2 separate regions of the Homo sapiens genome follow, and region 2 is linked to region 1. The links come from fine-mapping of genetic effects on gene expression. A gene starts in region 1. The other region holds a variant in brackets. All regions are shown on one strand. Distances are between the middles of the regions. Region 1 holds the start of ACSBG1 (acyl-CoA synthetase bubblegum family member 1). Region 2 holds the start of LOC124903534 (a long non-coding RNA gene).

Evidence for each region. PIP is the estimated chance that this variant, and not a neighbour inherited with it, causes the effect.
Region 2: its variant is fine-mapped to the expression of ACSBG1 in whole blood (INTERVAL, PIP 0.96).

What each region holds. Positions count from the first base shown.
Region 1 is chr15:78,227,592-78,242,748 of GRCh38, forward strand. ACSBG1 (acyl-CoA synthetase bubblegum family member 1) reads right to left here and starts at 6,974. Exons shown (of 14, transcript NM_015162.5): 1 at 6,780-6,974. The coding sequence starts at 6,910.
Region 2 is chr15:78,135,872-78,151,028 of GRCh38, forward strand. It overlaps LOC124903534 (a long non-coding RNA gene), which reads right to left and starts at 13,348. Exons shown (of 2, transcript XR_007064725.1): 1 at 13,237-13,348; 2 at 7,408-11,861. IDH3A (isocitrate dehydrogenase (NAD(+)) 3 catalytic subunit alpha) reads left to right here and starts at 13,491. Exons shown (of 11, transcript NM_005530.3): 1 at 13,491-13,559. The coding sequence starts at 13,533. RefSeq lists a silencer at 13,451-14,030. The variant C/T (reference allele first, on the strand shown) is at 7,314.

The sequences.
Region 1 (15,157 bases):
AAGCACACACCTATCTTCTGATCCAGTAATTCTATTCCTAGGGATTTACCCAAGAAAATGAGAACATATGTCCACAAAAACACCTTATACAAGAATTTCATAGCAGCTTTACTCATAAAATCCTCAAACTGGAAACAACTCAAATGCCCATCAATAGATTAATGGATAAAAAAAATTGTAGTATAGCCACACAATGGAATTCTACTGAAACGTACAGACGAATGAACTACTGAGACACTTGGCAATACTGATCAATCTCACAAACATTTCGATGAGTGCAAGGAGCCAGACAAGTAACATTCTGTGTGATCCCAAGCATGCCATCCTCAAGAACACCTGGAACATTGGCTGTTCAGAACAGTGGTTACTTATGGGAAAGTGAGGGTGGAGATTGATTAATTGACTAATCTCTTGCCTTAGCCTCCTGAGTAGCTGGGATTATAGATGCATGCACCTCCACACCCAGCTGACATCTAAATTCTTATTTTACAGCTGCTCGGGGCCAGAGTCTGAGCTAGGCCCTAGATGTCCTTCACATGGTCACAACCTTTACAGTTTCCAAAGCACCTTCCCAGCCCTGTTCTAAAGTGTTCCTCACAGGCTCCTTTCCAAGGAGCCAGAATTGTCTGGGTAGGAGGCCAGAGCTGGGATCCAGGGGTCTCTCACAGGACCCAGTGTGAGATAGGGTTTTTTTCTACCACCACTGGCCCTAGATGAAACTGTGCTTTTGCGGAGCTGAAGAGGTAAGTAGTGAGTTCCCCTTCCCTAGAGGTAATCAGGTCAGAGTAGATTGATAATATGTGAATGTTGTAATACAGTGGGTTGGACTTAGTGACCTAAAAAACCTGCTTGCCTTGTACTCTGCCATTCAGGGGCTTGCCTGGAGACAGTGGGTTAGCTTTGGGCCCAGATCCTGACTTCAGGTCAGTTTGAGCTCTGCTGCCCCTGGCTAAAATCTCTGCAGCTCCTGAGAGGACTACCGCTGGCTTGGGCGGACTTGCATTCGGAAGTTATCCAGATCCGTACTCAGAAGTCTAGGACCAGGGTTGGTTTGCCCTAGAGACTCACGCTTTCCATGGATGTGCCTGACCCCTTTGATCTTGGGCTCTTGACACCAGCACCTTGATTTCCTGTGGCTTTTACATGATAGTCCCAAATCTGCCCTGTTCCCACTGGCTTTTAGTCTCTTGAACACTACAAGCTCCATCCCACCTCGGGGCCTTTGCACATGCTGTGCCCATTTCCTAGAAAGTTCTTCCCCTAGCCAACTCCTACTCCTGTTTCATGTCTCAGTTTAAATGTTGCTTTACCAGGAGAGCCTGCACCAACCCTCAAGACCAAGTCAGATCTTCGTTATATTCTATTTTTTTTAATTACCGACATTTTAAAAAAATGTTTGTATTGTGGTAAAATACACATAACATAAAATTTTCCATTTGAAATGTTTTTAAGTGTATAATTCAGTGGCATTGATTATATTCCCTTTTTTTTTTTTTATTCATTCATGGCACCTGTCACAATTACAGTTTAATTGTATAATTATTTGTTAATGTCTGTCTCCCCTGCAAGCATGCAAACTCCTTAAGGTAGAGACTTGTTTTTGTTTTGTTATATTCTTCAGTGCTTAGCGCAATGCCTGATTATTCTACAATAAACAATTTTGAATAAATGAATGCATTCTTAACAAAAACAAAGAAAAACAGTAAAGAAACAAAAACATGAAACAACTGTGTTTTTTACATAATGGGAAGTGGGCAGTGGGAGTGGGAAGAATTTCAGCACTAGAAAGCCCAGATAGTCCATGTTTAAGGACACTTGTGTTCTTTCAGTGACATTCGCCTTACGATTGCCCCTCGTAGGCTAGCACACCCCAGAGAGGCAGAGCGCACTCTCTGTCATCCTGGGAAAGCTCTGTCAGTGGGAACAGCCTTGCTCATGGGGCTTGTAGCAGCCTCCTGCGACCGTTCCACATCCCTGGCTCTTAGGGGGCTCCTCTCTGCACCCAGTCTTTGGGTAGGCAGCGCCGGGAGAGTCAGCTAGGAGCCCAGAGTGAGTGTGGTCACTTCAGAGCCTGACAGCCCTCCCTGGGCCAGATGGGACCCTTGGAGCTCCCAAGTCCTGGCCTCCTGCCTCCACCTCACCCCTAGTCCAGCCTGTACTCACTGCTGCTAGATTCACAAACCCCAAACCAGGCTCTCCCCAGGCTTCTGCTGCTTGCACCCCTCCCAGGGTTCCTGTCTGCCTCCTTCTTTGAGCCTGGCTGCCCTTAGTCTGGCCACGTCAGCCTCTCTAGGCCCAGGAGTTAGCCGGTCCCCAACCTGACCAGTCTCATGGCCACCCGTAACATCTTCACAATCATGCCTTTGGTCAGCACAGCGCCCTGCTTGCCATCCGGGCATCCACAGCCTTTCAAACACAGGATGGACTGTCCTCTTCTGAGGTTCCTTCCAAGCCCTTCCTCCACAATGGGCTTCCTTAGGCTCAGGGAGACCGGTGTCTCCACTGGACAGAGGGCTTCCCAGGGTCAGGACCCAGGCCCTGGGCAGGCTCAAGGGGTGTCCCTGATGGAGGGCATGGTCTACAGCCACAGCCTCAAGGGCACAGAACACAAGCTGCCAGAGCAGGGCCAGTGTTAGCTCAGACCCCACGGGTTTTGCCTCTCCTGGCCCTGGCCTGGCTGTTTCCTCCGGACACCTGCCCCAGTCACTGGGATCCAGCCCTGCAACTTGTGTGGCAGGGAAGGGAACTCTCGTGGGTCAGGCCAGGGTGCAAGCCCTCCTCGGGCTCTCAGCCTCCCCTTTCTTCCACCTCCTGTCTTCCCCTCTGCAACACTGGGAAGCAGGGGGAAGATAAGCCCCTCTCAGGCTATGGAGGAATGCAGACCCGCCTTTCCCCAGGAGCAGCCACCATGGCCACAAGGTCAGGGCAAACGGGCAGGACTGAGATAGAGCCCTTCTGATATGGTCTGGCTGTGTCCCCACCCAAATCTCATCTGGAATTCCCATGTGTTGTGAGACAGACCAGGTGGGAGGTAATTGCATCATGGGGGCAGGTCCTTCCCGTGCTGTTCTCGTTACAGTAAGTCGCACAAGATCTGAGGATTATTATAAGGGGGAGTTTTTCTGCTCAAGCTCTCGTCTTGTCTGCTGCCATGTGAGATGTGCCTTTCGTCTTCTGCCATGATTGTAAGGCCACCTCAGCCACATGGAACTGTAAGTCCAATAAACTTCTTTCTTTTGTAAACTTCCCCGTCTCAGGTATGTCTTTATCAGCAGCGGGAAAACAGACTAATACACCTTCCCTCCTGGAGTTGGCCCAGAGGAGCAGAGAAGCAGAAAGGGGCATCACAATGGTCACAACAATGATCTCTCTGCCTTATTTATCTAGTTTTTGAGACAGGGTCTTGCTGTGTCACCCAGGTGGAGTGCAGTGGTGCCATCATGGCTTGACCTCCCGGGCTCAATTGATTTTCCCACGTCAGCCTTCTGAGTAGCTGGGACCACAGGTATGTGCCACCACATCTGGCTAATTTTTTTTTCTTTTTTTGAGACGGAGTTTTATTCTTGTTGCCCAGGCTGGAGTGCAATGGCACGATCTCAGCTCACGGCAACCTCTGCCTCCCAGATTCAAGCAGTTCTCCTGCCTCAGCCTCTCAAGTAGCTGGGATTATAGGCATGCGCCACCACGCCTGGCTAATTTTTTTTTTTTTGTATTTTTTTAGTAGAGACGGGGTTTCTCCATGTGGGTCAGGCTGGTCTCGAACTCCTGACCTCAGGTGATCTGCCCACCTCGGCCTCCCAAAGTACGGGGATTACAGGTGTGAGCCACTGTGCTCAGCTTTTTTGTATTTTTTTAAGCAAATTTTTGTATTTTTTGTACAGACAGGGTTTCAACATGTTACCCAGGCTGGTCTCGAACTCCTGGGCTTAAACAATCCACCCATTTTGTCCTACCAAAGTGCCAGGATTACAGGTGTGAGCCACTGTGCCTAGCCTATTTTTTATTTTTATTATTTTTTTGAGACAGAGTCTTGCCCTGTAGTCCAGGCTAGAGTACAGTGGTTAATAGCTCATTGCAGCCTCACACTCCTGGGCTCAAGCGATCCTCCCACCTCAGCCTCCTGAGTAGGTGGGACTACAGGTGCACACTATCATGCCTGGCCAATTTTTAAATTTTTAGCAGAGACAAGGTCTTGCTTTGTTGCCCAGACTGGTCTTGAACTCCTGCACTCAAGCAATCTTCCTTCCTTGGCCTCCTAAAGTGCTAGAATTACAGGCATGAGCCACTGCACCTGGCTCTCTCTGACTTTAGAACAATGTTTTACAAGAATTAAGTTCTTTTCTCACAGCTGCTCTGCAAGAATGTCAGAGCAGGTTTAGCTTCCCTGTTTGACAGATGGGGAAACTGAGGCTCAGAGAAGGTATCTTGCCAAGGGTCACAGAATGGGTTAGGAGCAGAGCTGGACTGGAACCCAAGGCATGTGACCTCCAGCCTGCTGCTAAGAGTGTTGCTATGAGAGTTACTATGCCTGTGATGGGTAACTCTTATGCTTTGAAAACATTTTCATACACATTAGCTGATGGAATCCACCCAATTTTTCTGCAATGTCAATGAAGTTCAGGCGTTGTATATTTATTTGTACAGAGGATGCTATTGAGGCTCAGAAAGGTTAAACAATGTATCCAAAGTCACTCAGCAAGAAAGTAGTAGAACTGACACTCCAACTCTTGGGTTTTTAGCCTTTCTCTTTCCCTACGGGGTCCCAAGACCCATTTACCCTTTCAGGAGGGAGTCCTTCTCTGCACAAGCCTAGGGTTCTGCCTCAAGTTTGCCTACTTTCCTTCAGTGATGTCTGCAAAACAAGCCCAGTCCTCTGTGAGCTTTGCAGGGCACACAGGACCCTCTGCCACCCCTTTTCACCACAGGCCTGAGACACAGGCTCCTGTGGCCCTGAGCCCCACTTGGCCCCTCACTCACAGGGAGCAGAAGACCCTGAGATCCTGCAGACCTTGATTTTGTTTTCAAAGACTCCCCTGGCCCTGGCTGTCCTCATGCCTGTCTACCCCTGCTCTGGGCACATTTATTTCTTTTTCTTCTTTTTTTTTTTTTTGAGAAGGACTTTTGCTCTCGTGGCCCAGGCTGGAGTGCAGTGGCACGATCTTGACTCACTGCAATTTCCACCTCCCGGGTTCAAGCAATTCTCCTGCCTCAGCCTCCTGAGTAGCTGGGATTACAGGCACGTACCACCACCTGGCTGTTTGTATTTTTAGTAGAGACAGAGTTTCATCACATTGGGCAGGCTGGTCTCAGAACTCCTGACCTTGGGTGATCCACCCGACTCAGCCTCCCAAAGTGCTGGGATTACAGGCATGAGCCATCATGCATGGCCTCTGGACATATTTCGATGTGCTCCTCTGAGCATCTCGCCTGGCCTTCCTGCTCTCTGAGCCCACAGACCCCAGGGAGGAGGGGAGGTGCCAGGACACCGGGGCCCAGAGGAGATCCTGAATCTGCCCTTGGGTGAGGAAGTCAGTCCAGCTTTCTTCCAGGGGCCCTTGACCCTCTGTGCACCTGACCTATGCCCAGGGAGGGGCTTGCCCTCATGCTCTTGGAGGCTTTGCAGGGAAGAGTCCCTGCTTCTGGAAGAACAGGAGTCCACTTTGGATTAGCAGGGTTCTCTGGAGACCCAGGGCAGGGCCCAGATGCCAGCCCTCGGAGGGGCCTCTGCATCTCTGAGGCGCATTAACATCTGTTCCCATTTCCCTCTATCTTCCTTCCCCATAACCTTCCATCAGGACAGGGGCTGTAGTCTTGGTAGCTCAGACACTGGCAATTCCTCCCCATTACTACAGAGGACTTGGACCCTGGTATTTAGCCCCTGTCCTCCCCAGTTCTATGCTTCCGCCACCCAGACCTCTCCCATCCCCAAACTTCCTGTCTTGCTTTGTTAGGTCGTTCTCTCTGCCCACTGCTCTTGGCTCCACTCTGACCGTCAAGGTCCATCTCAGGCGCCCCAGTTAGAAACCTCCTTCTCTCTGCCCCTTCGCCTGCGCCCCTCCTGGACACAAATCACAGATGTTGGGGTCCTGGAGTTCCGTGTGTGTGCGTGTGCGCGTGCGCCTGCCTTCTTCCTGCCTTCTGGCCAGGGCATCCCAGGGCTGGGACTGAGTCTCATCTTCTCAGGATCCCCTACTCCCTGGATGGACAGGGCCTGGGCCAGGGTGGGCATTGGTGAATGCCTGATACGTTGAATCCACTTCCTCTAAATCACAGATTACTGGAATATATACAGTGGAAGGGCTTTAGGGAAACCTCAGCCACTGCACTCATATTCAGACAGGGAAGCTACAGCCCACGGAGGGCAAAGGCACTTGCCAAGGTCACGCAGCAAACTGGAGCGGGAACCTCTGGGTCCCCACCAAAACTTATCTGTCTTTGACCCCCGCAGGCAAAAGTCCCCCTTGAGGAGACAGGGAAACATTCTTGACTGAAAAATTCCTCCTCCATCCAACTGAGATCCAACTGGTCTCCAACTGCAGCCCCAGCTCATACCCCTGGGATGTGCCTCATTCTTTGATGAGCCTTTCTTAGCCATGCTAAGTAGCCCTCCAAATGACCAGTTCTTCCATCTTACGGATCGCCCAGATCCTTCCCTTCATTTCCCAGGTGAAGAAACTGAGGCTCAGAGAGAGAAGCAGCTTGCCCAAGTTCACACAGCAGAGCAAAGTCTAGAACTCGGCCCACAGGTGCAGTGTGCAGAAACCCAACCAATGACTTACCTGGTTTTCAATTTTTCTTGGGTGGTCCTCACAATCATGTCCTGCCGGCTCTCCTGTGGGGTCTCTCTGCTGTCCAGCATGCTGGGGTCCCCGTGTGGGCAGCCGTATCCAGCTCCAGAATTGCGTGGCATCTGCCTCGGGCTTCCACTGAAGACAGCTCAGTCACCCACTGAGAGAGGCTAGCCTTGAGTGAGCAGTGGGGGTGGGCATGGGGCAGGGGAGGCGGCAACTAGAGTGACCCAAAGAGGCTCATTTCCTCTCTATTTTTAGAAGCTCAAAAAAAATTGCTCCTCAGTGAAGTTTCTCAGAATTAAAACTTTCCTTTTCTTTGTGGTTTTGTTTCTCTCAAGATGAGGAGAATTTCAATGAAGCCAGTGTTCTTTTTGATGCAAATCCGCTCCGCTTCTCCCAGGAGGTCTGGCCAATGGGCTCAGGGCTTCTGGGCCCCCAGAAAACCTCCTCACTGGCTTTAAAAGGTCATAGTGGTTCTCAGCACAAATCCAGACCCAGATCCTGAAGTGGCTGCTACCCCTGGCTGCATACACTCTGCAACCTTGACTTGCGGTCTGCCGAATGCTGCCCTGGGAGGGATCTCACCCACTCAGTCCCCCTCCCCCAGGTCCTGCATGGAGGCTGGAGACCCAAGGAGGGAGCCCACCCCGGGGGAAGGAAGGAGACATTTCCAACACTGAGACCACGCCACATGGTCTATAGAAGCAGTTGCACTGAAGACATGATAGAGGCAACCGAGGAATGTGACTTTCCAGGGACACATGAATAGAAGCCTGGATCTGTCCCTTCTTCTAAAGGAAAGAAGCATGTTAAGGGGGGCGGGGGGGTTTCAGGCAGCCATAAAGAGATGGGAAATTCACACAGGACAAGGCCTTTTTCTGAATACCAAAAGTCTCCCCTCTAAGACCATGTATTCATTCCCCAGGGCTGCTGTAACAAAGTTCCACAAACTGGATAGCTTCAAACAACAGAAATGTATTCTCCCACGGCTCTGGAGGCCAGAAGTTGGAAATGAAGATGTGCGCAGGGCCACACTCCCTCTGGGGGCTGTGGGCAGACTCTTTCTTTGCTTCTCTCCCAGCTGCTGGGGGTCACTGGCCATCCTGGGTGTTCCTTGGCTTGCATGTGCATCTCTCCAGCCTCTGCCTCTGTCCTCACGTGGCTGTCTTTCCTCTGTGTCTATGCCTTAGTACATTTTCTGTTGCTATCACTGAATACCTCAGACTGGGTAATTCATAACGAAAATAGGTCGGGTGCGGAGGCTCATGCCTTTAATCCCAGCACTTTGGGAAGCCAAGGTGGGAGGATTGCTTGAGCGTAGGAGTTCAAGACCATCCTGGGCAACATAGTAAGACTTTGTCTCTTCAAAAAATAAAACAGAATTAGCTGGGTGCCACGCCGTGGTGTGCACCTGTGGTCCCAGCCACTTGGGAGGCTGAGGTGGGATGATCACTCAAGCCTGGGAGGTTGAGACTGTAGTGAGCCATGATTGCACCACTGCACTCCAGCCTGGGCAACCAGAGTGAGACCCTGCCTCAAAAATAAAACAAACAAACAAATTTAAAAAAACACCAAAACACACACACACACACACACACACACACACACACACAAAGAAATTGATTTCTTAAAGCTCTAGAGGCTGGAAGTCCAATATTAAGGTGCCAGCATCTGGTGAGGGCTTTCTTGCTACATCATAACGTGGAGGGCATCACATGGTGAGAGGGCAAGAGCGTGGTGCCAGCTCAGGTCTTTCTTCTCTTATAAAGTTTCCAGTTTCAACATGGGACCCCGCCCTGATGACCTTGCCTAACCCTAATTACCTCCCAAGGGCTCAACTTCCAATCAACATATGAATTTTGAGGTTAAGTTTCCAACATATGAAATTTGTTGGGAATTTTCCCACCATAGCAGTCTATGTTCCTATTTTCTCTTCTTACATGGACACCAGTCATTGGAGTAGGGCCTTCCCTGATGCCAAAGAACCTCATCTTAACTATATCTGCAGAGACCCTATTTTCAAACAAGATCACATTCTGAGGCTCTGGGTAGACATGAATTTGCTGGGGGACGCAATTAAAATCCATATACATTGTGTACAGGAGGTGTTAGTGGGGATACCTATGAGATGTCCCCAAGAAGAAATAGGTCCAGTTGGGCCACAGGTGATGCTGTCTGGTGAAGGCAGGTGACTGAGAAAAAGCTGGGCTGCCTTCTAACAAACTCAGGGCACAGGCCACAGGCCCCCAAATGCTGCCTTCCTAATGCTGTTGAAGGTACACTGAGCAGGTCGTCTGGGGTCTAGCTGCAAGGCCTGAATCTCCCACTGACACGCCCTCAACCACGATCTTGGGCAGATCTCGGCCCTCTCCTGGCCTCAGTTTTAACTGCTTGAATCATGAGGGTGATGGCCTGAGGTGGGCCAAAGTGGCCACCAGCTCCAACTGGACGTGAGAAGGTGATGGGGAGTCCTTTGCCCATGGGCTGATTGGAGGGATCGAATGAGTCACCACTGTAAGTGACAAGTCAGTGTCTCCCCACCCGAGGAGAATCATAATCAGAGAAAAAGACATAGAATGCTCAGCTCTGAAGTTCAAAAGCCTTGGTCAATATGAAAGCCTGGGAAGGTTCGGAAAAATGTGTAAGTTGTTCATTCCCAACTCCCCTTCCTTCCCCATCCCTCAGATTCTTATAGATCCAGGGAACCAGGAAGGGGAAGAGAGTCCAAACAGAAGCAAGGCCCTGGGGAGGGCCTTAAGAAGACCTCCCTTGGGCAGATCTTCCAGGTCTGAGCATATCAGGGACCTGAGGTGGCCCAAGAAAGCGACAGGGCCCCAGAGTGCTCAGCGCGGGCCACAGAGAAAAGATGGCTTCAAGGAACCAAAAGCAAAAAGGCCCGGCACACCCTCTCGCCAGGGCAGGCAGTGAACTGAGGGTCAGGTGGCTGCTGGAGGAGAAAGTTGGTGGGCTGGCAACAGAGGCTGATAGGAACAAGGTCATTCTGCAGTCACTGCGAGGAGGGCTGACCCCACCTGGGAACCAGGACAAAGGCAATATATCAACAGAAGCTCAAGGCTGGGACATGGTGCTGAAAAGGTCAGGCTGTAGTGGAGTCTGATTTGGCTGAACTTTTTAAATGGTTCATTTCATTTTGAAAAATAAATACAAGCAATATGCCAGTTATGTCCAGATTCCCTCTCTACTCTCTCCCCTGGTTCTGTCCCCAGAGCTGCCCTGTGTGAGCCTCCCTTGGGCTCCCGGCCTCTGGCCTCTGGTTGTCAGGCCAATGCCAGGTGGTGGCAGGACAGCAGAAGGTAGAGAGAAAGAAAGGTTGGAGTTTTTATTCCTCTCCTTCCCTCCCGGCTGGCCACACTTTTGGCAGCAGCAGCCCCTCCAGCCAGCTCTGGCCTCAGGGGGAACAGTTCCTCCCCAGCTCCTTCAGGTCAGAAGTGTCTACCTCCCTGCAGCTGCCTCACCATCCCCTGTGGCTCCCTTAACACTGTCCTCACCTGTCCCTTCATTTTCTTCACCTACCACTTTTAAGGGGCCATCTCTTGCAGAAAGAACCCTGATTGATACAGTGGAACATGAAAATGTACAAAGGGGACTAACTGCTTGATGGGTATGGGGTCTCCTTTTGGGGTGATGAACATGTTTTGAATCTAGATAGAGATGATGGTTGCACAGCACCGTGAATGTACTAAATGCCACTGAATTGTACACTTTTTTTTTTTGAGACAGGATCTCATTCTGTTGCTTAGGCTGGAACGCAGTGGTGCGACCGTAGCTCGCTGCAGCCTCAAACTCCCAGGCTCCAGTGATCCTCCCACCTCAGCCTCCTGAGTGGCTGGGGCTACAGGCATGTATCACCATGCCTGGCTAATTTTTAAATTTTTTTTGGAGAGACAAGGTCTTGCTATGTTTCCCAGGCTAGTCTTGAACTCCTAGCCTCAAAGGATCCTCCTGTCTCAGCCTCCCAAGGTACTGGGATTATAGGTGTGAGCCACCATGCCCAGCCATGAATCCTACACTTTAAAATGGTGAATTTAATGTTATGTGAATTTCACCTCAATACAATGTTTTAAAAAGTACAAAGGGCTTCATAGTAAAAATTAAATTTTCCTCCCACTTTTCTGTCCCTCTCCCCACCATCCTTCACTCATTTCTTTTCTCCAGAGCCACCACTGTTAAAAATTTCTTTTTTGCATCATTCTAGAAATATCTTGGATATATACAAATGCTAACATATGGCATACACAGTTTCGTGTCTTCTTATACTTGACAACATTTGCTGGAGAACTTTTCATATTTTTGCCTGGAGAACTTCCTGGTTCTCTTTTTGTGGGGTAGGTACAGCATTCCATGGAAGGGCTGGCCCGAGATGCATTTCAACAGCTCTGTAGGATGAACATTTAGGTTGTTTTCAGTCTTTTGCTGTTACAGATGAAGCTGTGATGAATAATCTTATCCTTGCGTGGTTCGTACTTGAGCTAGTCTATCTCTAGGATAAATTCCTAGAAATGGGACGCTAGGACTTGACTAAGTTTAAACTTGAAAATGACCGAGTTTTTGCGAAACTCTTATTGGGTCGGGGGGTCCTTGCTCCCAGAGCTCCCAAGATGGTGGCGGGCCGCTTCCAAGATGGTGGCAAGCCTTGTGTTCTCTGACCTGGGGTTCTTGGCCTCATGGATTCCAAGGAATGGAATCTTGGGCCATGTGGTGAGTGTTATCGCTCTATTAGAAGCCGTGGATCACGGAAGAGAACCGTGGAACCCAGTGACTAGCGTTCAGCTGGATTAGGACAAACCTGGGCACCTAGCTGTGCAGGAACAATGGCAAGCCTTTAGCCGGATCGGGAGCGGCAATGGGTGCCTCATTGGATCAGGAGCACAGTGGACACCCTGCCGGATCCAGACGGATGGCAGTCAGCAGCGGGTCTGCGACAGCGGCAAACAGCAGTGGTGGACGGCGAGCAAAAGCTCAGCTCGAGCGGTAACAAACATGGACCAGAAGAGAATTGCAAGATTTTTTTTTTTTTTTTTTGAGATGGAGTCTTGCTCTGTCGCCCAGGCTGGAGTGCAGTGGTGTGACCTAGGCTCACTGCAAGCTCCACCTCCTCAGGTTCACACCATTCTCCAACTCAGCCTCCCGAGTAGCTGGGACTACAGGAGCCCGCCACCATGCCCAGCTAATTTTTTTGTATTTTTATTAGTGACTGGGTTTCACCATGTCAGCCAGGATGGTCTCGATCTCCTGACCTCGTGATCTGCCCGCCTCAGGCTCCCAAAGTGCTGGGATTACAGGCGTAAGCCACCGTGCCCCACCAGTTGCAAGATTTAGTAGAGTGAAAACAGAGCTCCCATACAAAGGGAGGAGACCCAAAGTGGGTAGCCAGTTGCCAGCTGGAATGCCTGGGTTTATATCCCGATTGTCGTTCCTCCTGCTGTGCTCTCAGGCAATAGATGATTGGCTATTTCTTTACCTCCTGTTTTTGCCTAATTAGCATTTTAATGAGCTCTCTTTATTACCTGATTGGTCAGGTATGAGCTAAGTTGCAAGCCCCGTGTTTAAAGGTGGATGTGGCCATCTTCCCAGCTAGGCTTAGGGATTCTCAGTCGGCCTAGGAAATCCAGCTGGTCCTGTCTCTCAAAACCAACAGATTAAATGTCCTGCCATTAGGAGGAAGGGTGGAGAGCTGTAAAAAAAATTTTTTTTCCATTGAGTTACAGAAAATAAAACTGCAGTTTTGCCCACCTGAGTTTGTCGATTGAGGAAGTTTGTGCCTGCTATGCGTGTAAGGCCAAATGCCTCTGCACCAGCCTCTACTGTCATCGAAGTGATTGCTGCCCTCACTGGTTTTCAACTTCAAGAATTGGCTGGGTGTGGTGGCTCATGCCTAGCACTTTGGGAAGCTGAGGCAGGTTGACTGCCTGAGCTCAGGAGTTCGAGACCAGCCTGGGCAACACAGTGAAACCCCATCTCTACTAAAATACAAAAAATTAGCTGGCGTGGTGCTGTGCACCTGTAATCCCAGCTACTCAGGAGGCTGAGGCAGGAGAATTGCTAGAAGCCGGGAGGCGGAAGTTGCAGTGAGCCAAGATCACGCCACTGCACTCCAGCCTGGGCAACAGAGTGAGACTCCATCTCTTAAAAAAAAAAAAAAAAAAAATCAAGACCACTATTTTCCAATCAATTTCTTTACCACCTTCATTAGTTTTGCCATATTTGGTTTCCCCAGGGGTATAGTACATTATTTACTATTTTTCAACTCCATTTTATAATTTAAAAATGAAATAGCTTTATTCTAAGCAATTGAAGAACTTGTTATATAAATATATACAGATATTTCCCAATGCATGTTGAAATTAACATGAAACTACCTTTTCTTCTTTCTTTTTGAGAGATTGAGGGGGGGGTCTCATCATGTTGCTCGGGCTGGTCTTGAACTCCTGGGGTCAAGCAATCAGCCTGCCTCCCACAACAAAGAGATATTAAGTGTTTTGTTTTTGTTTTTAAAAGCCTTTAAAAAGGCTTGGGTGGGAGGGTCATTGCTGTATGTTTTCAGCATTAGCTTTTCTGGGCCACTTTTTTGTTATCATGCGTATGTATTACCAGGAGACGATTTTTTTTTTCTTTTTAAATTTCAAAATACTGCACCTGGGGCTCTGGATTGAGGCCTCGCAGTCGTCTCTGGGTGCAGGACGAGCAGGAGAACAATGGGCCTCTGCTGACCCCTGCTGGCCAGAGCGCCTCCCACCCACCCAGGTCTCCACAGGACTGGGATCTTGCGCCACTGCCTCCATCCCCAGAAACAGCCGTCCTTCCTCCCCTGCCCCCAGAAGGCCTCCGGCAGCCACCACAGTGTGCTCTGGACATCGAGTCTGGGGCCCGGCTGGGAGACCCTTGTGCTCCAGAGGGCGCTGAGGCTCTGGGCTGCATTTGTGTCCCCTCTGGCCCTGTCTACATCGAGTGGGTGGGGTGTGAGTCCTGGGATCAGAGTATCCTCCAGCTCTAGATAAAACCCGACTTTGGAAGGCCAAGGTGGGTGGATGACCTGAGGTCAGGAGTTCGAGACCGGTCTGACCAACATGGTAAAGCCCTGTCTCTACTAAAAATACAAAAATAAGCCAGGCGTGGTGGTGGGTGCCTGTAGTCCAAGCTACTCGGGAGGCTGAGGCAGGAGAATTGCTTGAACCCAGGCGGTGGAGGTTGCAGTGAGCCAAGGTTGCACCACTGCACTCCAGCCTGGGTGACAGAGACTCTGTCTCAAAAATAAATAAAATAAAATAGATAAAACCCAGAGATTTTTGGAGATTCAAACTCCTCTCCCAGGGACTCACATTCTCTGAGCTATGGGTCACCAGGGCAGAGCTTTCCTGAGAGGAGGGGCAGAAGAACGTAGCACATAGAGGATTCTAACCTGCCAGGACTGAGCTGGGAGTGGGCAATGGAGACCACGGAGGATGGAGGCCTTTGGAGGATTAGGGAAGGAGGAGGAAGGGAGGGAACCCAGATGTCTGGGCAACCTCTGCAGAGGAGGCACCTTCTTTTCTCACCTGGAAAGACCTGGATCAAGGGCCACGTGACCCGTATTCTCCAGATCTGCACCATATAGGGCAGGGGTGGAACACACTGGTTTTTGGATTTGCACCATGACCCAAGCCAAGTCACCTCTCTGAGTCTCAGTTTCCTCCTCTGTAAAATGGAGAGTCCTGATTACCAGGGGCAGAACCCCTAACTGAAACCAGCAGAGACAAAAAGGACCACGAGATGATGGGTGCAATGCAGGACAGGGTGAATAACTAAACACAAAGGGGCGAGGGGTGCTCTGCCACTGGGAAGGATCCCCCTTCTCCACCTCCCTTATGAGGGAGTGAATCTCATGGCTCACTCTGCACTGGCTCCCTCCTGTGGAGAGACCGGGGATAGGAAGACAGCCGTAAGTTCCCCGGCTTTCTCCCCTCAACAGAATGGTCCAAAGTGCAGCACACACAACCTGTCTGGGTCACCTACATGACATAGCAAAGAGCTATGTTTCCTTGTGCAATGAAGAACAGCTCAGAAATGCAACTACCTTCTATTTATTTGCTTTCCTTCCTTTTCTGCCTCATGTCTTTTTTTTTTCCCTGATTCTTGTGCCCTAGAATTCCACTTCCAATAAAGCCTTAGGACATAAACTTTGCCTTGGGCTCTGTTTTCTAGAGCATCTGGGATGAGATAGATGCTTATAAGCTGTTTGACCTTGGATACATGACTTAACCTCTCTGTGCTTCAGTTTTCTTATTTGTAAAATGGAGTCATGATTCCTAGTTCATGAGGTTGCAGTGAGTTAAGTCTACTGAAGGCACTTAGAGTGGTATGTAAAC
Region 2 (15,157 bases), 92 kb before region 1:
ATTTTTAGTAGAGACGGGGTTTCACTGTGTTAGCCAGGATGGTCTTGATCTCCTGACCCTGTGATCCGCCCGTCTCAGCCTGAATCTAGGTAGATCTTAATGACAGAGATGGAAGATCCCTGGGCCCAAGGTCTGGGTGGGACCATCTCTTAAAGTAAACGAAGCCTGCAGCCTGTCTTCTAGCAGCTCTGTGGGCCCTGTGAGTCATTCCCCAGTCCTCCACTCAAATCCTTTACTATCCCACCTCTACTTTTTATCAGCTCAGGACCCCACCTGCTATCTTGGCTCATGGGAATCTTCTCTATCTTAGGGGCAATTCAAATCTTACTCTTATCTTTACCTATAAAGCATTGTCATCTTGGCGTCTTCCCTGACATGGCTGTGATTTATAGTGTGTGAGCAGTTACTAGGTCTGCCTCAGTCTCTCTCTCTTTCTCTCTCTCTCCCTCTCTCTCTCACACACACATACCCTGCAACCCCTTGTTTAACCTGGCCTATATCCTAGCACTGAACAGCTTGTCTCTGTTTCTCTAGCATTTTGCACATAGTAGGTTCTTAATGAGTATTTGGTGGATAAATAAATACACACCCTGGGACTGTTTTTTTTTTTGTCCTGAGGAGGGTTATTTTTCCCTCTCAAACACTAAGAAACAGGAGGGCTGGGACCAGGGCTGGGACCACATGTTCGTCTGTATCCCCAGACACAGAGGAATCTCCCAGGGTCTAGCACATGGTCTTAGCAAATGTAAAATCAACACCCTTTAAAAGAGTACATTTTCCTGGACCTGTTCATACATTTAATCAACTAGATCCCCAAATATTCTGACTTGAAAAAGATTTTCTTACTGGAGGATTTAGTGACCAGTCGTTTAGCGCAGAGCCAACAGAATGAAACCCCTTTCTCTCTTCCGGGAGACTGACCTGCCCTAGAGCCTTCCCCAGAAGCTACTCTGGATGTGAGAAGTTACTGGATGGCTCAAATGGGACCCCAGCTGGATGGCGACTGTCCTGTTGTTGAGGGAGGAGGGGGTCAATTTCCTCCACAAATCTGCTTCTTCTGGATCGTGTCCCACCCACCTCTTGGATGCCTTTGACATCTTTGGAGGCACCCTTGATTTCTCTCCTTCCCTCAGACCCCTCAGTCCATTAGCACAGCCAGTCATATCTAGAAGCCAGCCACTTCTTAGCACTCCATTGCTATCACTGTGGTCCACGCCCCCCTCACCTCTCTCCTGTTATGGCCGTATCTATCATGAAATGACCTAAACCAATTCATCCACAACTAGGTTCATTTTACTGCAGATCTCAGTAATCTCCAGTAATGAGTGGTAGGTAGGGGTGTTGTGTTTCCTTCCACAAACCTTGCTATGAGGGGGTCTGAGGCAAGCAAGTCTCAGACTGAAGTCCACACCTTGTACCATCACTTATCAGCAAGCAGGTCCCCAACAGTCATATAACCTTCTCTATGAGCTCAATGAAGGCCTAGCTCCCTGACCTTTTGCATATTTCAATAAACTTTCCTCTTGAAAGATTTAGTTCAGGCTGGGTGCAGTGCTCATGCCTATAATCCCAGTACCTTGGGAGGCTGAGGCAGGAGGATCACTTGAGCTCAGGAGTTTGAGACCAGCCTGGGCAACATAGTGAGAACCCCATCTCTAAAAAAAATACAAAAAATAGCTGGACGTGGTGGCACACGCCTGTAGTCCCAACTACTCAGGAGGCTGAGGTGGGAAGATCACTTGAGCCTGAGGGGTTGAGGCCGCAGTGAGCTGAGATTGCACCACTGCACTCCAGCCTGAGCAACAGAGTGAGACTCTGTCTCAGAAAATAGGGGGGAGGGATTTCATTCAAGGAAGTTGCAAACAATATTTAAGGAGCAAGATTTGAACAACCTTCAATTTGGGATCAGGCAACTGCATTCTTACTCAGAAGCTTGAACCTGACCAGACGGACTCCTAAGACCTAGACCCCATCAAAACTCCCTAGGTTTTTGTGTCCTGTCTGTCTGTGTAAGGGCAGAGGTACTTGGACAACCCTTCACATATCTAAAATACCACTCATTTGATCAATGGACAATTATTTCAGCCATCCATTTTGCTAATGAACAGACCCTCTGCTGCTGGAATGGCATCAAGACAGCTGAAGCCCTTGTGGAAGGGTCTCTGGAGTGTGGGCTTCTGGGTAAAGTCCCAACTGCTTCTAGAATGGCCTCTCTCAAAGTGTGATCGTGGGTCTCCTGGGGTCTCTGGGATCTTTTCAGAGAGTCTGCAAGGGCAACAATATCTCATAATAATACTGAGACATTATTTGCCTTTTTCATTCTCATTTTCTCACAAGTGTAGAGTGAAGATTTCCAGAAGTTATATGGGTATGTGATATTGCAACAGGTTGAATGAAGAAGCAAATGTGAGAATCCAGCAGTTTTCTATTTTGTTTTTGTTTTTTTGAGACAGAGTCTCGCTCTGTCACCCAGGCTGGAGTGCAGTGGTGTGATCTCTGCTCCCTGCAAGCTCTGCCTCCCGGGTTCATGCCATTCTCCTGCCTCAGACTCCCGCCCGGCTAATTTTTTTGTATTTTTAGTAGACACAGGGTTTCACCATGTTAGCCAGGATGGTCTCGATCTCCTGACCTCGTGATCCGCCTGCCTCAGCCTCCCAAAGTGCTGGGATTACAGGTGTGAGCCACTGTGCCCAGCCCGAGCAGTTTTCTATTAAGCCAAGCTCTAAAGACATTTGCAAGCATGTAAAACAATGCCACTCTTCTCAATAAATATTTTTGTCTTCAAATATATGATTATTTTTCATAAAAGTCTGTTAACTAAGCCAACATATAATGGTTTTGTCTTTGCAGTGGGTAGGAAGAACCCATCGGGTGATTACACTTGCCAAGCTTTCAGTATCAGAGAGGAAGGTGGGGGTGTCCGTAGGGTGAAAATAGCACCCCAAATGTCTTAGATCCTCATACTTTTTTTTTGAGATGGAGTCTCACTCTGCCACCCAGGCTGGAGTGTAGTGATGTAATCTCGGCTCACTGCAACCTTGGCCTCTCAGGTTCAAGCAATTCTTATGCCTCAGCCTCCTGAGTAGCTAGGACTACAGGCGCCCACCACCATGCCCAGCTAATTTTTTTTTTTTTTTGTATTTTTTTTGTATTTTTTTTTTTTGTAGAGCTAGGGTTTCACCATGTTGGCCAAGCTGGTCTTGAACTCCTTACCTCAGGTGATCCGCCCACCTCGGCCTCCCAAAGTGCTGGGATTACAGGCGTGAGCCACCGCAACTGGCCAGATCCTCATACTTTTTAAGAACAGGCTGCTTTCATCATCAAGAGGAGCTCTTCATCACACTTAAGGTGGTTCTGCAAGACCTCTGGGAGAATCCCAGTGAGCTGGGGTCCCTGTGTCTGTAGAGGCCTGGCATCATGGTTTACACAAAAGGAACAAAAGAAACTACCTGGGAATCCCTTAACCCTTCCCAAGCTCTATCAACTCAGGTCACATTGATGTCTCTGAAGCATCTTGTCATAATATGAACTGTCTTCCAGAGCTATCTTTGTGGCTCTCCCAGGCTACTATGGGTTCCTCAGAGGCAGGCCCTGAATGATTAGATGTTCATTTCTGTGTTTGGAGGATTGTTGGGAAGTTTGTGTAGGGAGGGTTCTCATTTAATCAGTTTCCCTGCATCTTCTGATCTGATCAGCCCAGGAGAATGGGAGCTTCAGCAGGTCTGTGTGACCGCAACCATTCTTGTGTTGCTATAAAGAAATACCTGAGACTGGGTAATTTATAAAGAGGTTTAATTGGTTCATGGTTCTGCAGGCTGTGCAGGAAACATGGCTTCTGATGAGGCCTCAGGAAGCTTTTATTCTCGGCAGAAGGTGAAACAGCAGCTTGCGTAACACAGGTGGAAAGCAGGAGCAAGGGGGAGGTGCCATACACTTTTAAATGACCAGATCGCACTATAACTCACTATCACAAAGACAGCACCAAGCCATGGGGGACCTGGCCCCAAACACCTTCCACCAGGCCCCACCTCTAGCATTGGGGATTACACTTCAACATGAGATTTGGGCGGGGACAAATATCCAAAGTATATCAAAGTCTTTTGTCATTCTATTAGCTTCAGCTTACTCAAACATCTTTAAAGATGTTATAAGGTGTCACATTAATCAGAGAGTCTTCTGAATTCTCCGTGGGAGTGTTAATAACTCCATTTTACAGGTGAGAGAATGGAAGGTCAAATTCACACATCTGGAGAGTGTCAATGTGAGAACTGGGACCCAGGTTTGCCTGGAGGATCTTCCACTATTGCCCTGGCACCTATACTGAGAATAAATGTTGTCCCTTTGAAAGGGGCAGCTAGTTCCTTTGTTCACCCCAGAGACTATGAGAATAGGCTTTCAAGTATTTACTCCATTAACCTTGCAGCCCAAGGCTCAGCTACTCCAGGAAGAGAGAGGGACTGGGAGTCAGTATCTGCTTTGAGGGAAGTTTTATCACTTTTTATAGCAACCTCTGAACTTGACCCATGGACTTAGGCAGATAGAGCAAAGCCAGTCCCTGCAGTATAAACAGATGGGAGATAAGTCAGGTCAATTTGATTTGATCAACACCCCTGATTGCATTTATTTCCTTATTTCTAGGCTGGCTCCAGAGATGCTATCCCCAAATGGGCCTCTGGAGGACAAATCTTTTGGTGAACATTCATTAAGCAAAATAATGCACTTATGAGTAAAGCACATGGTGACTTGGATGGTGTGCCATTACCTCCCCAGGACAGAGTCCAAACTGCTTGCCATGATAGGTGCATGTGGTCTGGATCCTGCCTTTCCCCACTTCTTCCCACCTGGCCCTTTGTTCCTGGTATCCTTTCTGCCTGGCACTCCTTTTCCTTCCCTTCTTTCTGTTTGGAAAATTGGCCTCCCTTAAGTCTTGTCTGCTTGTAACAATCTCTGCTTTAACCCCCATGACACTCTCATCTCCCCTAGTTCTTGAGGTACCCCAGGCTTAGAGGACCCACAGACCCTGGAATCCATATTACAGCATTTGTTTCAGTGGATTGGGATCAACTGTTTGAATATTTACCCTCTAGATCAGTGTTCGTATGGGAGGGATACTGCTCCCTAAGGAATGTTTTGAGCTGTATGGGTGTTTTGTGGATGCAATGACAAGAGGGTACTATTTCCACTTAGTGCCTGGGTTTTGGGGATGCTGATGTTCTGTAATGCCGGGACAATCCTGCCCACTGGAGAATGTCTCATGTCCTGCAGGACCTTGAGGAGATCAACCAGATACTCCTGTAGGAAACAAACCTGTTTATAATGACCTGAGCTTGGAACCCAACTCTGTTTTATAAATAAACTCCTTTTTGTGTGATCTTAACATATGTTCAGTTATCCAGGAATGCAAATCAAGGGAAGACTAAAATTTACTTTGTTCAAAACTTTAACAAGACTCGATCACCATTTTGGAGGTAACATCGGAGATGGCAACGTGACTTGTGATTGAGAAAGAAGAAATTAACCCAGATGCCTGTGGCAACTAAGAATTTTGCTTGATGTGGCCTGGTGCAGCAGCTCATGCCTGTAATCCCAACACTTTAGGAGGCTGAGGCGGGAGGATTGCTTGAGCCCAGGAGTTCCAGACTAGCCTGAGCAACATAGCAAGACCCTATCTCTACAAAAAATTAAAAAGTTAGCTGGGAGTGGTGGCTCATGACTGCATTCCCAGCTACTTGGGAGGCTGAAGTAGGAGGATTGCTTGACCCTGTCTCAAAAAAAAGAAAGAAAAAGAATTTTGCTTGACCCCATACAACACACCTGTATTCATCTGCATTTGTGAACGTCACCATCACTGTGATTCATGGTCTATTAACATCTACTTTTTTAGCTCTTATTTTTAAATGTCAAAGATAAAAACTGTGGCCTGAATATTATCATACCTCTCTCAAATCCAAACTTACTTGTTATAAGTAGGTGCAAGCATGTGACTGCTTCATAATGTCTTTTAGAGTTTAGGCCTGAGCATTTATGTATTGAAACCCATTATTTTATTACAGTATTCCTTTTATTTCTCTTTCATATTACAGTAGCAGCATTATATTGATTTTGTTTTTTCATTATGTGTATAAGTGGTTTAGATTATCCATGAATTTCGTTTCAGTATGGTAAAGAGGATATTCAAAATATTTGTTATAAAAAGGGAGCATCTGGCAGCATTGAGAACCACTCTAAGGTTCAGGAGGCAGGGACTTCGCCTCCCCTGGGTTACTCCATTCTTCTTTGTGCCTAGCATAGGGCCTGGAATATCACAGATGCACAAAGAATCTTTTCTGAATGAGTGATGAAGGAATTGAGGCTGATACTCTGGTTTGGTAACCACCTAGGTATGTGATGAGGCCCTCTGCTGAGATGGGAACACAGGAGAGAGGGCAGGTTTTGGGGAGAGTAATGAGTTCAGTTTTCATTGTGAAAGTTTGGAGAGCCCTGGAATTTCTAGGTGGAGAGGCCTGAGGCCCAGGGCTGTGTGGGCCTTGATTTCTCTCAAGGCCACAGAAGAGTGGAAAGTGCAAAGTCGTAGTAACAGTTCATCTCTTTAGTCAGTAATCATTGCTGAGTCTCTCCATGCAGGATGAATAGACCAGTGAGAGCTGCCCATGAGGTGTCTCCCTCCTCCTGTGGTGATCTGTGTACCTGCCCAGGCCCTCAGAGGCTAGGAGCTCCTCCAAGGTAGGGGATAGAAATCCTTCATCTCTAGCCCCTCTGACTTCCTGCCCCATCCTGACATAGTAGGTGGCTCGGCAATGATAGCTGGAGGGACCACGCAGTAAAACCCATCTGTGGAAACACATGTATTCAGAGCAACTTTTTTTGGCCTGAAGTCACTGCAGTGGAACATTTGGGAGCAAGTTTCCCCAGGGCCCAGCTCCTTCCCGCTAGGCTCTGCCATGCCTCCTGTTTATTAACAGGGAGGCGTGACAAAGGGAAAAATCTCCTGATTGAAGACTCATCTCAGACATCTTTTCACTCCTCTAGGGAAGGGTGCAATTCTGGGCTTTAATGACATATGACGGGGCAGGCAGTAGAGGTGTTGCGCATTTTAGGCAATACATGTGCTGCTAGAAAGTTGAGGTATAGGGACTTTTTAGGAACACAATTTTTATTGACAAGTAACCTTTCAAGAACAATAAAGAAAATCAGAAAGAAAACCTATGTTCATAGCAGCATCATTCATAATAGCGAAAACAACTCAAATGGCCATCAACTGACGAACGTATGAATAAAATGTGGTCTATTCATGTGATGGAATATAACTTGAC[C/T]GTCATGAGGAATGAAGGACTGATGCATGCTATGATATGGATAAGTCTTGAAAACATCATGCTAAATGAAAGAAGCCAGACACAAGAGACCAGATATTTTATGACTCCGTTTATATGAAATGCCCAGAGTAGGTGAATACATTGGGATGTAAAAGAGATTGGTGGTTGCCAGGGTCTGGGAGAGGGGAGATGGGGAGTGGCTGATGGAACAAGCCATATGGAAAAGCATTCCAGGCATTGGGAGCAGTAAGTGCAAAGGCCCTGCAGTGGGAGGAAGCATGGCCGATTAAAGAACAGCAAGGAGGTAGGTCGGCTTCAAGGGAGACAGTGGTGGGGGAGAAGCTCAGAGAGGGGCTAGCAGGACTAGACCCTTTAGGGCTTTATGGGGCACTGCCAGGGCATTGCCTTTTACTTGGAGAGAGACAGGATGTCGCTGGCAGCTTTGGGCAGAGAAGGATGTATCTGTCTTATGTTTGAACACAATCCCTCTGGCAGGAGATGGATTTTAAGGGGTAGAAGTAGGGAAGCCAGTTTGGGGGCCACTGTGTTGGTTCAGGCAAGAGGTAACTCTGACTTGGACCCTGGTGGCAGCAGCTGCCAAGGGGAAAAGTGTCCAAAACTGAACCTATTTTGAAAACAGCTCATCTTCAGGCTTTTGGCCTCAGCAACTAGAAGGCTGGAGTTGAATTTTATTGGGTGGGGGAATTCTGTGGGAGGGAGCAGGTTTCCTTCTACTCTTTGTTCACATATAAAAAGAAGTTATAAGAGAACATAGATAATAGTTTAAATTTTTATTTTTTTCTGAACATTCAACCATAAACATTTATCAAGATGCTAAAGTCTTCATAATACTCACTTTAAAAATGTTTTTTTTGGCCAGGCGCGGTCGCTCATGCCTGTAATCCCAGCACTTGGGAGGCCGAGGCAGGCGGATCACGAGGTCAGGAGATCAAGACCACCCTGGCTAACATGGTGAAACCCTGTCTCTACTAAAAATACAAAAAATTAGCTGAGCATGGTGGCGGGCGCCTGTAGTTCCAGCTACTTGGGAGGCTGAGGCAGGAGAATGGCATGAACGCAGGAGAATGGCGTGAACCCAGGAGGCGGAGCTTGCAGTGAGCCAAGACAGCGCCACTGCACTCCAGCCTGGGCGACAGAGCCAGACTCCATCTCAAAAAAAAAAATTATTTTTTAATTTTATTTTTAGAGATAAGGTCTTCCTCTGTCATCCAGGCTGGAGTGCAGTGGTGCAATCATGGCTCACTGTAGCCTCTAACTCCTGGGCTCAAGTGAGCCTTCCACCTCAGCCTCCCAAGTGGCTGGGACTACAGGTACATGCCACCATGCCTGGCTAAATTTTTATATTTTGTAGAGACTATGTCTTGCTATGTTGCCCAGGCTGGTCTTCAACTCCTGGCCTCAAGTGATCACCTCGGCCTCCCAAAGTGCTGGGATTGCAGATGTGAACCACCATGCCAGGCCATTGATCACTTTTGAAGGCTGCATGATGGTCCACTTCATTCATTTCCCCTAAATTACATAACCATTTCTTCTGTTAATCATTTAGACTGCTTTTTTCTCTTTTTAGTTTTCAAAATTAAGGATAATTGTATAATGAATATCTTTGTGTTGATGGCTTTTTCTTTCTGGATTTTTTTCCCCAAGAGTTTAATTCTCAGGAATGGATTTACTAGGTGAAAGAGTAAGAACAGTTAATGTCTCTCTTAAGACACATTGCTAAACTGTTTTCCAAAGAGATTGTGGAAATGTATAAGGCCAGCCAAGCAGTGCGCCATAAATTGGATGGTATAAGGCATTGCATTTTATTAATATTTTTAAATAAAAATAATTTTTTTTAGAAATTTGCATGCATTTGACTATTGTTAAGATTGAACATTTATTTAAAAGTTTATTTGGCTGTGAATTGATTATTCAGGTCCTTTTCCCGTTTTGTTTTGTTTTTTTTTTTCCCGAGACGGAGTCTTACTCAGTCACCCAGGCTGGAGTGCAGTGGTGTGATCTCGCCTCACTGCAACTTCCACCTCCCAGGTTCAAGTGATTCTCCTGCCTCAGCCTCCCCAGTAGCTGGGACTACAGGTGTGCACCACCATGCCTCCCTAAGTTTTGTATTTTTAGTAGAGAGGGGGTTTTACTATGTTAACCAGGCTGGTCTTGACCTCCTGACCTTGTGATCTGCCCGCCTCGGCCTCCAAAAGTGCTGGGATTACAGGAATGAGCCACCATGCCCGGCCTATGTTTTTTGTTTTGTTTTGTTTGAGACAGAGTCTTACTCTGTCGCCCAGGCTGGAGTGCAGTGGCACGATCTCGGCTCACTGCAACCTCGGCCTCCCAGGTTCAAGCAGTTCTCTGCCTCAGCCTCCTTTGTAGCTGGGATTACAGGTACCCGCCACCACGCCCAGCTAATTTTTTGTATTTTTAGTAGAGACAGGCTTTCACCATCTTGGCCAGGCTGGTCTTGAACTCCGGACCTCGTGATCCACCCACCTCTGCCTCCCAAAGTGCTGGGATTACAGGCGTGAGCCACCGCGCCCAGTCCCCTTTTCCCATTTATTTACTAAAGTCCTAATACCTTCTTTACCAATTTGTTGGATCTTTTCCTAACTTAGAGATAGGGATGAACCCTTTGCCAATCATATCTTTAATGAAAATAATATTTTAAATAAAGTAGGAAAACTGTTGAAATGAATTTCTTTTGTAACAAAAAATAAACATTTGGTATGTGAATAATGTATATTCTGTTTTGCTGATTTATTCACTTAAAAATTGCTATCTTGATTTTATTATTTATTTATTTGACACAGAGTCTCGCTCTGTCACCCAGGTTGGAGTGCAGTGGTGCGATCTTGGATCACTGCAATCTCCGCCTCCCAGGTTCAAGTGATTCTCCTGCCTCAGCGTCCTGAGTAGCTGGGACTACAGATGCACACCACCACCCCTGGCTAATTTTTGTTACTTTTAGGAGAGATGGGGTTTCACCATATTGGCCAGGCTGGTCTCAAACTCCTGACCTCAGGCGATCCACCCACCTCTGCCTCCCAAAGTGCTGCGATTACAGGAGTGAGCCACCGCACCTGGCCTCTTGATTTTAAAATCTTTTTTTTTTTCCTTAGAGTGAAGCACACCTGGATTGGATAGTGCTTGTTATTACAGATAAGGGTGCACTTTCTAGATTCTTCTCCTGAGTGGCAAAGTTTTCCCACCGTCTTGTCCAAACATACTTTGCTGATGGTATCTCTGGGCACTACACAGTGCAAGGGACAAGGAAAAAGGGCTTTTCCAGAGGAGAGTGACCTGCATCTTGGAGGAACTCTAGAACATGTTCGAGGAATGGTGACTGGGGCTTCTGGAGCCAAGGGCTGACTCAGGGAACAGATCTCAGCTCAAGGTGAGGTCATTTCTGTTTCCTGCATGTCCCTCCAGCTGCTGACATTTTACCTCTTCAAGGACTGATTCAAATGCCATCTCCATTGTGCAATCTTCCTTGATCACCCCCCAACTTCCATCTGAGACTTCTGAGTTTCTCCCTCACTAGATCTGGAGGGTAGGAGTGGGTCTTGTTCATTTTTTGTTCTCACAGTGCACTTGCTAGAGAATGGCTTGGGAAGCCTTTGTAGGATTGGACTGGCCCTCAGCGAAAGTTCAGCAGTTAGGAGAACTGCCTTAGTACTTAGGAAGCTTCCTAGTGTGAATGCCAGCATCATCACTTACTAGCTGTACTTCAGTTTTCTCATAGGGTTGTTGTGAAGATTAAATGAAGACTGGACAAAGTCAGTCAATGTTTATTTCACAATCACTGAGCAGCAAGTATTCCTTGTGTACCAGTCTCTGTTCCAGAAACAACGTCATAAGAGATCATCAAGATTATCTCTGGACTTAAGGCATATCTTCTCTCTATCTCTTTTGAGACAGAGTCTCGCTCTGTCACCCAGACTGGAGTGCAGTGGCATGATCTCGGCTCACTGCAACCTCTGCCTCGTGGGTTCAAGCGATTCTGATGCCTCAGTCTCCTGAGTCACTGGGATTATAGGCATGTGCCAACACGCCCAACTAATTTTTGTATTTTTAGTAGAGACAGGGTTTTGCCATGTTGGCCAGGCTGGTCTCCAACTCCTGACTTCAAGTGATCCACCTGCGTCGGCCACCCAAAGTGTTGGGATTACAGGCGTGAGTCACCACGCCTGGCCCAAAGCTTATCTTCTCAATGGCACACAGCAGAAGAGAATGTGATGTTTCCCAGGAGAGGTGGGAGCCAAGTGCTAGAGGGCTCTGAGTAAGGAGAGGGGGACACATTCGTGGGTCTTGGGGGCTTTTACAACTTTTACTACTTCCCAACATGTAAGCTGAGTCTTGACAAGGAGCTAGAATTTCAGCCAGTAGAAGTGGGGCAAGAGGGCATTGAGGCTGAGGGAATGGCACGACCATAGGCACGGAGAGGTAAAATATGGGAAGCATTTGGGGGCTGGCCAGCAGTCCTAGTTGGCAGGCGCTCCAGGTCTTTGGGGCTGGAAGGAGTGGTGGGAAATCAGGCTGAAAAAAGACAGTGGTGTGAGAGGAGAGTGCAAGGGAGAGCCAGGAGGTTTCAGAGCCGGGGCGAGCCCTGGTCAGAGCTGTGCCTGAAGGGGAGGGCAGGTTGGCAGGTGAAGAGGCTGTTGTAAGAGCCTGGGCCTGAGGTGGTCTGGCCCGAAGGAGGGCAGGGGTGACATTGGGGATGGAGGAACTGTGGGAGAACACTTCAGGATGGGACTGCCAGGGCCTGATGAGGGGAAGGGGCCCAATGGAAAGGGGTTGATAAAAGCCCTCCTTCCTGACAAGGCCACAGACTTAGCTGCAGTTTATTATTTAGGTCATAAAAGCTCTTGGGATCACTTCTCTACTGCACTCATCACCTCTCTGGGTGGGTAGGCAGCTCCTCTCTGGATAGAACTCTTCCCAGGGTAGGGTAGCAGAGACCTGGTTTAAACACCTGACCTCCCCTGGCACCCAGCTAGAGGCCTGGCCATCAGCAGGAACTCAGGAGTTTGTGATGGACAGGGAGAGGACAAGGGGAAAGGTGAGTATGGATGTTATTTCTTCAGAGAAGCATTCCCTGACCTCCAGGTTAGGTTTGAATCAGGTTGCCTGATTTTGCCTTGCCATAGCTCCTTGCTCTTTTGCTTCTTGGCGCAACAGTTTTAATGACATGTGTGTGACACTTGATTGAAGCCTGTCTTTCCTACTGGACACTAAGCCCCAGCACTTAAAACAGTGCCTGGTGTCTAGTTGACCCTCAGAAATATTTGTTGAGCTAAATAGACAGATTAGTAGTTGCCTGGGATTGAGGACAGGAGCGGGATTGACTATAAACGGACACAAGGAACATTTTCATATGCTCAAAAACTGGATTGTGGTGATGGTTGTGCAACTGTTTACATTTACTAAAAATCATCAAACTGTACACTTACAGTGAGTAAATGTTACTATATATACATTATACCTCAATAAAGCTGGTAAAAAATAAAATTCGGCCAGTCGCAGTGGCTCACTTTGTGAGCCTGGGGCAAGCAGATCGCTTGAACTCTGGAGTTCCAGACCAGCCTGAGCAACATAGCGAGGCCCCATCTCTACGGAGAAAAAAAAAAAAAAAAAAAAAGAAAAAGAAAAGAAAAAACAAAGTTGGGCTGGGCTTAGTAATTACTTGATCCCAGGAGGTCGAGGCTTTGTAGTGAACCTGTTCGCGCTACTGCACTCCAGCCTGGGCGACAGAGTGAGACCCGGTCTCAAAAAAAAAAAAAAAATCAAAATTTGTGGAATAAGAAAATTATGTGTCTTTCTCCACGGGATTGTAAATTCTATGAGGAGCGCTATATCCCCAAGATCCTAGAACATTAATCAGCACCTAGTAGGTGTGGAACAAACGTCTTACCTTAACAGCGAGTCAATGAACCAGGGAGGGGAGGAAGAAGCTTTCCCGGAGATGCCGGCCCCTCAGTTTCCGGGTTCGCCTGGCGCTCAGCCAGGCCAGTCACAGAGAGACGAGCCCGGCGATTCGCCAGCGGAATGTCCAGGGGCGGGGCAGCGAGCGAGCGCGAAGCAATCCTGAGGCGGTCTAGGGGGCGGGGCGTTCAGGGGGCGTGGCCGTGCAGGGGCGGGCTCCGAGCGTGGGGTGGGCGCTTGCGCACTGCCGCTGCGGCTGTTGCTGCGGAGCCAGGAGGGGAAGCGATGGCTGGGCCCGCGTGGATCTCTAAGGTGAGCGCTGGCAGGCCGGCGTGTGGCAGGCAGGCAGGCCGCGAGGGCTGGCAGGAGAGCCGGTCGCGTGCCGGGTGTGGGCGGGCGCGTGGGCCAGACAGGGAGGCGGTGGCTGCCCGCGGGGACAGCTTGGGAGCCGGTCCTGGTCGCCCGTGCCCCGCGCTCCGTGGCCGGCTCGCAGTGTATGGGCCGCCCCGGGCCGGGTCAGCAGCGCAGAGGCGGGGACGGCGTCAAGGTCAAGGCGGGGGGGCGCCGGCCCTGCTCCTGCCGAGACCCGGCTGCCGTCACCCGCATCCGCCCAGGCCAGAGCCCAGGCTTCGCGCCGAGCCCGGGAAGGTCACGGGAGCCTCTGTCCCGGCTCCGCCATCCGGGCCGCTTCCCCGGCTGCGGCCCTGCTGCGGGACTGATCCCCTCAGCACTGCCCACACCTCTCATCCGCTGTCTGCGCGGCCCTTGGCCGGGGAACCGCAGGTGCCACGGGCACTGGCGTTGAGCTTGGGAGGTTTTCCCAGGTGAGAGAATCCGGGGGCCCTTTTCCCTATCAGATTGTTTTCCCTTTGGCGCTCTTCCCAGTCAGACCTCTAGTGCTCTTGTAGCTATTTCCCCTTCATAGGATAGGGCATCTTACACCTCGGAATTACCGTCTGAACCTTCGGAGAGAGAGACCAGCAGAGCCTTCCTTTTACCTTTCATTGGTGGGAATCCTGCAATCTGGAGCGCTTTAGCTCTCCTTGACAGCTCAGATGCCAGAGCTGGAAAGGGTTTCAGATCATCTATGCAGTTCCGTAGCTTCTCAGTGGAACTAACCTGTGCCTGAAGAAGAATTTGCTCAAGGTCACACAGGAGGTCGGTGTCAGAGCAGGGAGAGGAACCTAGGTGTCTTGGTTCCCATTTCCCAAGGTCACATAGCAAATGATGGTACAGGCCATCAGGCCTCAAGTCTCCTGTTGCTATGAAAGGGTGGTCCCCTAGAAATCTATAAACAATTTAACGTTTTTCTGTAAGTTTGATACTACTTTTCTCCCATTTTTTCGGTTTAAAGAGAGGTCCAGAGATGCACTGTTATTTAAGGAAAAGATCTCTGTACTGGAATTTAGGAGTCTCAGATTTAAATCCTAGCAATGCCACTGATTGGCTGTGTGACCCTAAGCAAATTACTAAACATCTCTAAGCCTTAATATGCCCATCTGTGAATATCTATACTTACATCACAGAATTGTTTGAGTATTAAATAAAATAATGTATGTGAAAGCACTTGGTATGTACAGAAGGAAAACAAAAATCTGAAGCTTTCTTATCAATATGTTTATCTGTCTCCAACAGACAGTGGTTTTCATGGGCATCATTAACTGGTTTTTTTGTTCAATAACTAGATTCTACTTTGTCACCCTCTTCAGACCCAGATTTGCTTGTGATGATAACTCTTATGTCACATTTGCTCCTAAAAGTAAAGCAACTTCTGTGTCACTGTGAAAACTGAACTCAGTCCTTTAATCTCTGAACTTACATTTAACACCCAATTCATCTTTGGTAGGTACATTTGCCTTCACAGTGAGGCACTAAAGCAACACTTGATAATGATTGTGCTGGTAAATCTG